2 separate regions of the Homo sapiens genome follow, and region 1 is linked to region 2. The links come from fine-mapping of genetic effects on gene expression. A gene starts in region 2. The other region holds a variant in brackets. All regions are shown on one strand. Distances are between the middles of the regions. Region 1 overlaps PKD2L1 (polycystin 2 like 1, transient receptor potential cation channel). Region 2 holds the start of PKD2L1 (polycystin 2 like 1, transient receptor potential cation channel).

What was found.
Region 1: its variant is fine-mapped to the expression of PKD2L1 in whole blood (TOPMed, PIP above 0.99).

The regions. Positions count from the first base shown.
Region 1 is chr10:100,289,255-100,294,254 of GRCh38, forward strand. PKD2L1 (polycystin 2 like 1, transient receptor potential cation channel) reads right to left here. Exons shown (of 16, transcript NM_016112.3): 10 at 4,027-4,125; 11 at 3,694-3,815; 12 at 2,047-2,173; 13 at 1,147-1,265; 14 at 761-884. Among named protein-coding and RNA genes, the nearest start is that of BLOC1S2, 5.1 kb to the left of the region's middle. The variant G/T (reference allele first, on the strand shown) is at 2,233.
Region 2 is chr10:100,328,106-100,333,543 of GRCh38, forward strand. It overlaps PKD2L1 (polycystin 2 like 1, transient receptor potential cation channel), which reads right to left and starts at 2,123. Exons shown (of 16, transcript NM_016112.3): 1 at 1,764-2,123; 2 at 1,106-1,219. The coding sequence starts at 1,998.

The DNA of each region.
Region 1 (5,000 bases), 39 kb before region 2:
GTAGCCCTTATGAGTGGGCTCACGCCTGTAATTCCAGCACTTTGGGAGGACGAGGTGGGTGGATCACCTGAGGTCAGGAGTTCGAGACCAGCCTGACCAATATGGAGAAACCCCATCTGTACTAAAAATACAAAATTAGCTGGGTATGGTGGCACATGCCTGTAATCCCAGCTACTTGGGAGGCTGAGGCAGGAGAATCACTTGAACTCAGGAGGCGGAGGTTGCAGTGAGCCGAGATCGTGCCATTGCACTCCAGCCTGGCCAACAAGAGTAAAATTCCATCTCAAATAATAATAATAATAAATAAAATAAAAAAATAAAATAAAGGAGACTTCCCTTACCCCTTCCACCATGAAAGGGCACAGCAAGAAGACAGCTCTCTATGAATCAGGAAGTGGGCCCTCAACAGATACTGAATCTACTGGCACCTTGATCTTAGACTTCCCAGCCTCCCAAACTGTGAGGAACAAATTTGTGTTGCTTATAAGCCACCCAGTCTATGATAATTTATTATATCAGCCCAAACAGACTGACACAGACCATCTCATGTGGCCAAGGCAGCCCTTAGGCCAGGGCAAGCAACTTCCAGGCCTTATCTCCATGACCCATCTCTGCTGATACACTAACCGCTATGAACATGTTTCCCCAGGAGCCTGAAAACATAGGTCTTTCAAAAATGTTCTTGCCCCACCCACTGAGTGGAAAAGATGGCAGAGTTCAGCTGTGAGGAACTAGGAGGACCAGGTGAAGGGCCACTCACCACGCCTGGGGAGGGAGCCAGCCACCCCTTCCTCTCCAGCATTTTCAGCTTTGAGCCTACAGCATCAATCTGGGACACTACTCCTTCCAGGACAGTCTCCAGCTGCAGAACTCTCCTTGTGAGCCTGTGTGGGATTTGAGAGAGACGAATGGAGCAGAAATCTGTGTCTGGGGGCTGGATGTCTAAAGAGCCAGGGTTCACAGAAGGGCATGTGTCCTGAATGGAACAAGGAAGGGAAGACCCAGCCTTGTAGGCAGAATTAAAGGGGAGCGGAGGTTCTCCCTGGGGTAGGACAGAGAATTGGAAAGTTGTGGGAAAAGTACAAGACAGGGTATCGTAATAGAAGTGTTGCCAGCCCTGAACCAGCCTTTCTTGGCTGCACGTACATGTAGAATTCTTCTCCTGAAACCCAGCCTCCTGCTCTGGCAGCCTCTGGACCCGATTTGCCTTGTGGGCTGCTCACAATAGATCGGCCTAGTTTCTCAATCTCAGTGTTGAGGGCCACCTGCTCAGGAAGTCAGAGGTTAGAGGGGAGGAGATAACTCTGGGAAGCCATCAGCTCCTGTTCTATCACCTACTCTACTGGGATCTCAGGACCAAGGCTCAGGTCCTAGTTCTTGCTATTCCCCTTCCCTCCCAGACTCTGGAGACAATAGGGTCAGGGTGGTGGTGCTGGACCAACCTCTGGAGGAGTCACCTCTCAAAGAAAACACAAGATCCTAGAAGGCTTGATGGATGAGGTATTTACTAGAGGCCAACTCATTTTAGCAGAGGAGGGACACTACCAGTGTTCTTGGCACTTTCTAGGCTGCTGTCACCCTGCCTTTGACTTTTTTTGGTCCACACTGGATAGGGATGGAGCAGGCACAGTAGGGACAGCCAAGAATCCAAGTCTGAAAATTCCCAAGAGAAGGCAAGTCCTCTGAGGGAATTATCAGTGATTCTTGGGCAGTTGGTCATTTTTCCCTAAGCCTGTGTTTTAGAGCATGATTCTCAACCTTGGCTATGTATTGGAATCACCTAAGGAGTTATAAAAAGTACTGATGTCTAGGCCCCACACCCAGAGATTCTGGTTTAATTGGTCTAGAGTGTGTGTCCTGAGTATGAAGATTTTTAAAGGCCCCCCAGGGTATTCTAATGTGCAGCAGTTTGGGAACTACTATTCTAGAGAGTTCTTTACTATCTATGGGAGAGTTTTCAGGTGGGTTTGTGTTCTAGGTATGTTGGGGGAAGGAGAGGGTGAGCTATTTCCTTACACTGCCTCTCCACCCATCAGCCCAGCTCACCCTCTCTTCCTCCAGGTCCTGTCGCATTTTTTCCTGTTCCTTCTCATCCAGAATACGATTCCCATCTCTGTCAAACTTGGTGAAGGTGGCCGTGAGCTCAGTGATTTCATGCTCTGCGTGTCCCAGTCTGAGAAGAGGATGATGAAATGATTTCTGCCCAGCTGTGGCTGTGACCTCTCAGTTATG[G/T]ACTTCCTCACTCTTTTGCTTGACTCTGGCAAAAGTTTTGCTTCTGGTAAAGAAGGTTCTCCAAAGTCTAGCAATCTTACCCCCAGGAAAACACTCAGTTCAGTTCAGTTTCTTCTTCCTCTCCTGACTCCTGCTCACCAGGTTCAGGGCCTCATGACCTCCTACAGGGATTATTGCAAAATCTGTTTGCCTCTAAATAACCTGCTATCCCCCAGCTTCCCCTTTACTCCCTACCCCTGAAATCCATCCTCCATAATACAACTAGAGTAATTAACCTTTCTAATATGCAGATCTAAAAATGTGCCTTCTTGAAATCCCTTCTGGCACCCTATTCTTTTGGCAGAGTGGTAGTGTGGCCTTTCTCAGTGTGGTCCTTGCCTGTTTCTCTGGTCTCATCTCCTGCTATGACCACCACCTGTCCCCGCCCCTTTATTTAATACTTAGCAATGCTCAACTACTTATTCCTCCTGTGTATGTTGCTTGGTTTCAGACCTCTATGCTTTTGTATGTGCTTTCATCTCTTCTTGGAAGAGCCTTCCTCTGCTTGTCCACTTGTGAGCTATTCATCCTCCAATATCCTATTTAGACATTACCTCTTCCAGGAAGCCTTCCCTTAAGCTCAGAGATAGAATTGATCACCCTCTACTCCTAGTCACTTCTGTTGAACTTATTCTGTGATTCAGTTTATTTGCAAGTCTATGAGCTCTTAGAAAACAAAGACTTTGTCCCATTTAATTACGTTGTCTCCTAATCCCAGCACTTTGGGAGGCTGAGGTGGGTGGATCACTTGAGGCCAGGAGTTTGAGACCAGCCTGGCCAACATGGCAAAATCCCATCTCTACCAAAAATACAAAAATTAGCCGGGCGTGGTGGCACATGACTGTAGTCCCAGCTACTCAGGAGGCTGAGGCATGAGAATTGCTTGACCCCGGGGAAGCTGAGGTTGCAGTGAGCCGAGATTGTGCAACTGCACTCCAGCCTGGGCAACAGAGCAGGACTTTGTCTCAAAAAAAAAAAAAAAATTATGTTGTCTATTACTCAGTGCCTGATCTGCAGCTGGTGCTCACAATGTATTTGTTCAATGTGTATTAATATGTTTGACTGGGAATCAGGGAGTGAATGGCTAAAGGAATAGATGAGTGTTTGTGGGGAAGCATAGAACAAAAATCAGAGTTTTGTGGGAGTGGGGTGTGTATTCAATGATTAGGGAATTATTACATTGTTTCCTAAGAGTTGTTCAACAAGATCCAGGATGTTATAAACCACGGTCAGAGATTTTTAAACCAAGGGCACAGTTCTGAAGGTCAGGAGCGGAGACCTACGGGCAAAGATCTGAAGCCTGCAAGTCAAGATCAGAGGCCCCTAAACTAAAACCAAAGGCTTATAAGCAAATGAAGTATGGTTGAGGGTTGAGGACTTAAGAGACTGTTATTAGAGAAGGCTGGGTCTCTGGTTGCTCACTCCCTTAAGGTGTTGGTGAAATCCTCAAACTGGATCTCCTGCTCCCCACCCTGCAGGACCTTCTGCACATCCGAAACCCTCTCCTTCCTCAGACGCAGTCTTAGTAGGGTCTTGTTGTAGCCCTGAAAGGGAAAGGAAATAGGCACAAGTTCTCACAGGCTGCTCACTCATCCCTGGCCCCCAGCCCCACCCATAGTATGCCAGGCTTCCAAGGATAAATTTAAAGGCACACAAGGGCACAGGCACCTCAATCAGTCAGGAACAGACCAGGACACAGAGCCTTAGACTGGGGCACTGATGGAAATGTGTAGCTCAAGGAGATTGAGCAATCACCTGTTTCAGGAGGTCAGAAAGTTGCAGCTCATCCTTCTGTCCAGCCAGCTCCTCCTTGACCTCTGAATATGTGTCATTGATGATGGCCAGGAACATGTTCTGGAAAATGAAGTGGGGACCTGGGTCCTCACCCCCAGACCCACTGAAAGGATTGAGCCCACTGACCCCATTAATGTCCAAGACACGTGTTCCAAAGGGGTCAGTGCTCTCAACCCCAGTTCGGCAGCCCATCAATCCCTGCCTCTCAGGGTCCCCAGAGCCCAGCCTTTCAGCACAGTTCTGTTAGAGATGGATCATGCTTCTTGACCAACCTGGTGTCCTCACTCTCAGTTGCTGTAGTAACCTTTCTGACCACAGAGATACAATAACATATGCCACAGACCTCCTTTGTATAAGGGCCCATCAATCATTGGAACTAGAGGCTTTTCAGGGTGAGAGTACAATTGTGATCTCTTTTTCATCTACCCCCCAATCCATATCTGTATCCCCATCCATTGATCAAATAAAGAAAATTGCTGGCCTTGTTAGTAAAAATAAAATCCAAGAGCTGGGCACACTGGCCTACACCTGTAATCCAGCACTTTGGGAGGCCAAGGCAGGCAGATTGCTTGAGTCCAGGAGTTAGAGACCAGCCTGGGCAACATAGCAAAACACTGTCTCTACAAAAGATACAAAAATTAGCGGGGTGTGGTGGCTCCTGACCATACCAGTGGTCCTATCTACTCAGGAAGCTAAAGTGGGAGGATAGTTTGAGCTCGGGAGGTGGAGGTTGCAGTGAGCTGAGATTGCACCACTGCACTCCAGCCTGGGTGACAGAGTGAGACCCTGTCTAAAATAAATAAATAATAACCCAGATTTTTCATGGTTGGCAGGGAGAGAGAACTACCAAGTAGTGGCAGTAGAAATCAGCATGAGATCCCCAGAGGAAGGGGAGTCTTGGAGGACGGTCGTAGACGCTTCCAGGTGCAGCTACT
Region 2 (5,438 bases):
ACCCCACACACAACTATATTAAACTAGGCAAACATCACTTGTGCAACTTTTGAAAGAAGTAATAAACCAAATACAAAGTTGCTGTCATTACCTACAAGTCTAATAGCATCTGTTTGGTCCAATTTTATTATTATTTACGGTTCTTTGACTCTATCTTCCCACAGTCGCCCTCCTATCTTTTCACTTGCTTCTCTCAACTTAGAGATCAAAATTTCTCAGTTTGTGTCTATAGCTAGAGCCTCAATAAGCTTCCTCCAATGGCATGTGACATGGTGGTCTCTCACATGGGACCATCACCATACCATGTGTTTCCCTCCCTCTCTTAACAGGGATCTGAGATCTAAGGTCGCCTGGATCTTTTACTTCCTCTCTTTTTTCTTCCATCTTTTTCTCTGCCTCTAAAGAAACATGCATCGGATATAGTATAATAACTACGTGAAGCCCACCAAACTATCTTTCCAAACAGAAGGGAGTGGTTTTCCACTCTTTTTTTTTTTTGGAGACAGAGAGACAGAGTCTTGCTCTGTCCCCCAGGCTGGAGTGTAGTGGCACGATCTTGGCTCACTGCAACCTCTGCTCCTGGGTTTAAGCGATTCTCCTGCCTCAGCCTCCTGAGTAGCTGGGATTACAGGCACCTGCCACCCAGCTAATTTTTGTATTTTTAGTAGAGACAGGGTTTCGCCATGTTGGCCAAGCTGGTCTCAAAACTCCTGACCTCAGGTGATGTGCCCACTTCGGCCTCCCAAAGTGCTGGGATTACAGGCGTGAGCCACCGTGCCAGCCCACTCTCTACAGAAGGGTAAAATATTTTCACCTTTCACCTTTTCAGCCAATAGAAAACAATGGCTGCCAAAAACTGGTTTCCCCTTGTAATTCTTGACCAAACTGCCTTCCTCTACTGACAAATTCCTTTTAAACAAAATATCTTAAGCTGCAAAGGTAAATAGATGGGATTGGAATATTGTTATCTAAAGTTCCCGGATATAGCCTGCTTACACAGATAGATGCTCGCTCCACAGATGTTGCCCACAGGAATGTTTATACATATAGTGCACACATAGATGTTTCTCACAGACAGATGTACACAAACACAGATGCTACTCACGTAGACAGATGTCCACCAGGAACACAATATATACCAACAGCTCCCTCAGGGTGGTCTTGATATAAAGTTCCCGGTTCTCAGCTGTGTTCTCAGTCAGGGTTGTTCCCCAAAGTCCTAAGGGGCATGGGAGAGATGCCTGGGATGCTCAGTGGCAGTGTTCCTCCCAGTCATCCCCACCCATCTGTCTCTGGACTTTAGCCCCTTTCCACCCCTGCCCTTCCTTGCCCATCACCTTCATCCTTGGCTGAATCTGGCTACTGTACCCACACCCATGCTTGCTCTTCCCATCAGCTCCCTGAGGTCGACAGGGGTGAAGGCCCTGGCTTGTAGAGAATGAAGGCATGGAAAGGAGGCACCTGTTCCAGGTGGGGTAGTCTAGGGCATCATCACATCCATGTCCTCCCTCAAACCAGCTCCCACATACCTCTCTGGATCCCCAGGTGATGACCATGCCAGGCTCCCACAACCGGTAGACCGCTCAGCTGGCCTCTGTGTTCTGGGTCATGCAGCACTACCATGGGCAATTCATACACCCCAAAGTGACACCGAAAGGTCACCTCTTCTTCAGATCACATTCCACCCCCACCCCCTGCCCAAAAGCTTTTGGTGACTCCTCCTGATTCTAATATCCCAGGAGAACTGTCCCCCTATCTGGTACCTCTGATGCCTTGACAGATATGGAGGCAGCAGCTGGACACCTGGGTCCTGTATGCCGTCTCCTGGGGTTCATCTTCAGGCTTCTTGGGTTGGGGCTGGAGAGGCCCCGTGCTGGAGATGGTGCAGACTCTCAGCGTCCCGTGTGGGGAAGGGGGACCACTGTAGGCGGGGTTGTCCCAGGCTCCACTCCCCAGCTTTTGCAGCTCCTGCCCCTCAGGACTTCCCACAGCATTCATGGGGAATGAGGTGGGGGGGCCCGGTACCCCAGGTGCCCACTCTCAGCTAGAGGAAGAGGGAGCAGAGGCACAGCCCAGCCTAGCCAGCAGAGAGCAAATGGAAAGGCGTCTGAGAGCAGCTGTTTCCACACAGCCTGGGCTCCTGCCTTTTGTAGGGGGATGTCTGTGCCTGCTGGGGAGGGAGCGGATGAGAGGACAGGGTGGGGAAGGACCATCAATCCTGTCAGGAGCTCTCTCTCCCTCTTGCTGCAAGCCCCAGGGGACCAGCCGAAAGGGGAGGTGAGGGAACTGGAAGGTGGGGGTTTGAAGAGGGGAGAGGGGAGAATAGGAGGAGGATGTGGAGCTGGGAGTGGAAGGAGAAACGGGAGGAAAAGGCGATGCTGGGGATGAAGGGGGCTGCTCGCAGATGTGCCTGGTGGAGAGATGGCCCAGAGGTCGGACAGAAGAGACGATCAAAGAGCAATGGGAGGAGCTGAGACAGGAGGGGAGCCGGGGGCCTGTGCTGCGGGTCTGAGCTCATTTCCACTAAAAGCTCCTAAAAGGGCCGACATGGATTGGGGTGGGGACCAAGGCTGGGAGGAAAGCTGAAGAGCGCTGTCCCCCTCCCAGGCTCTGCCCACCTCCCAGGTTCAGTCAATGGGTCTGAGGCTCCTGTCCTGTCTCACCTTCAGCTGTCCCCTGGTGGAGCAGAGATGGGCAGCTCCCTTCCCTCACTTCACCCTCTCAGCCGTGGGGAAAGGACAGTGGCAGGAGGAACCCCAGTCTCACATACTTCAGGGCACTGAGGGGGCAGGGGAGAGGACCACAGAGTCCTAGGTTGTCTATATTCCTTGTTCTGAAGCTTGCCTTTCCATGGCTTACAGGTGAGATACACCAAGAGAGGGGGTTCCTTAAGGGTGTGGGGCTCAGTATGGGAAAAAGGCTAAGACCTGGTTGGGAGGCTGGATCGGAGAACAAAGGACAAGGACAGTATGATGTGGGACTAAAGGGGAGTGGATATCTGGACCCAGCTGAGCTGGGAACCTTTTCCCATGGCTCTGCTTAGTCCTGGGCCTAGAATCGTAAACTTGAGCACAAAGTGGAACTATCCATGATATCAGGATTAATCTGCTTTCTTTATAACTGCAGGTCTCTGAATTAAAACTGTGTCATGGGCCCCCAAGCACATCCCTGCCTATGCCCTGCTCCAGCTTCTGATCACCTGCTCCAGCTCCCCTATAGGCATGCATGATGCCCCAGAATGGGGCTGATCCCACAGGTTGTGGTGGTCACCCTGCAGTTTCTCCTCCTTGAGGCTAGAGCAGAGACTTTCCTCTCCTAACTCCTGGCTCCCCACCCAGGGCTACTCACTGGCCTGAAGCCCACCTTCACATTCAGCAAAACATCAGCCTTGTCAAAATAATCAGTCTTGAGTGTCCCTATAAAGAGATCTTGGCTGGGTGTGGTTGCCCACACCTGTAATTCCAGCACTTTGGGAGGCCAGGGCAGGAGGATCACTTGAGCTCAGGAGTTCAAGACCAGCCCGGGCAACATGGTGAAACACCGCCTCTACAAAACAACAACAAAACAACAAAAATTAGCCAGGCATGGGGTGCGTGCATGTAGTCCCAGCTGCTACTCAGGTGGCTGGGGTGGGAGAACCACTTGAGCTGGGGAGGCTGAGGCGTTGAGGCTGCAGTCAGCTGAAATCACACCACTGCACTCCAGCCTGAGCAACAGAGCAAGACCCTGTCTCAAGAAAAAAGAAAGAAAGAAAGATAACAAGTGTTGGCAAGGCTGTGGAGAAAAGGGGCCCCTTGTATGCTTGGCTGTATTGTAAATTAGTACGGACATCTTGGAAAACAGTATGGAGGTTCCTCAAAAAACTAAAAATAGAATTACCATATGTTCCAAGAATCTCAAAGGAATTGAAATCAGTGTGTTGAATAGATGTCTCCTCTCCCATGTTCATTGCAGGATTATTAATAATAGCCAAGATATGGAAACAATCTAAGTATCCATCAACTGACGAAAGGATTTAAAAGATGTGGTATATATGCACAATATAATATATTCAGCCTTGAAAAAAAAAACACAGAAAATTCTGTCATTTACGACAACATAGATAAACCTAGAGAACATTATGTTAAGTGAAATAAGCCAGGCATAATGAGACAGATGCCCTATGCTCTCACTTATATGTGGAAACTAAAAAAATTGAACTCGTAGAAGTAGAGAGTAGAATGGTGGTTACCAGAGGCTGGGGGTGAGGGGTGTGTGAGAGGGGAAGAGAGTGGTCGATGGATAAAAGCTTTCAATCAGGCAAGAGAAATATGTTCTGTTGTTCTGTTGCACAGTGTGGTGACTACAGTTGATAATGAGGTACTGTGTACTTCAAAATAGCTAACAGAGAGGATTTAAAAAGTTCTTACTACAAAGAAATGATAAATATTTGAAGTAATGAATATGCTAATTCACCTGATTTGATCACTCCACAATGTATACATGTATCAAAATGTCACATTGTACCTCATAAGTATATAGAATTATTATTTATCAATTAAAAATAAAATAAAACTTTAAAAAATGGAGCAAATGGGCCAGGCACAGTGGCTAACATCAGCACTTTGGGAGGCCGAGCTTGAGACTAGGAGTTCAAGACCAGCCTGGGCAACAAAGTGAGACCCTGTCTCTACAAAAAAATCAAAAAATTAGCTGGGCATGGTAATGCATGTCTGTGATCCCAAATACACAGGAGGCTGAGGCAGGAGGATTGCTTGAGCCCGGGAGGTCAGGGCTGCAGTGAGCCGTGTTCATGCCATTGCACTCCAGCCTTGGTGACAGAGAAAGAGCTTGTTTCAAAAAAAAAAAAAAAAAAAAGCAGCAGCAGCAAATGGAGGCATGAATAATGTGAGGTAGCCTATTTTAATGGTATAGACACTAAACATTATGAAGTTTAGGGGAAAAGGAAGCTTCCTCTGGAGGAAATGAAACAGAAGCTAGATCTTGATGGATGGGCGAGGTTTGGGAAGGAAGAGCCCCATCAGGTTTGGATGGGAAGGTTTGGAAAAGAAGAGGTTCCTTCTAAGCATAGGAATGATAGGTGGGGTCTTGGGGCTCTGAAGATGTCTGTGATGCCCCTAGGGTTGTAGAAGACTGGCCCTTAGTGCAGTTGGGAGAAAACAGAGGAGGGGGAAGGCCTGAGGTTGCATAACGAGGGTGAGGACCTCTGGTGGTCCCTATTGCCGCCGAGAACTGTGGTGTGCGTGAATCCCTTCAGAGACCATGGAAACTACCAGCTATTCAGAGTGGTTGAAGAACAAAAGGAGGTGGCTTCTGACCAAGTCAGTGGGAAGGAAATGACAAAATAAGAAGAAAAGGAAGGGTTCTTTTTCATTTGGGGCACTCATCCATGCTAATTTTTCATCCATAAAGAAATGAGTAGTCAATCTTTTCATGCT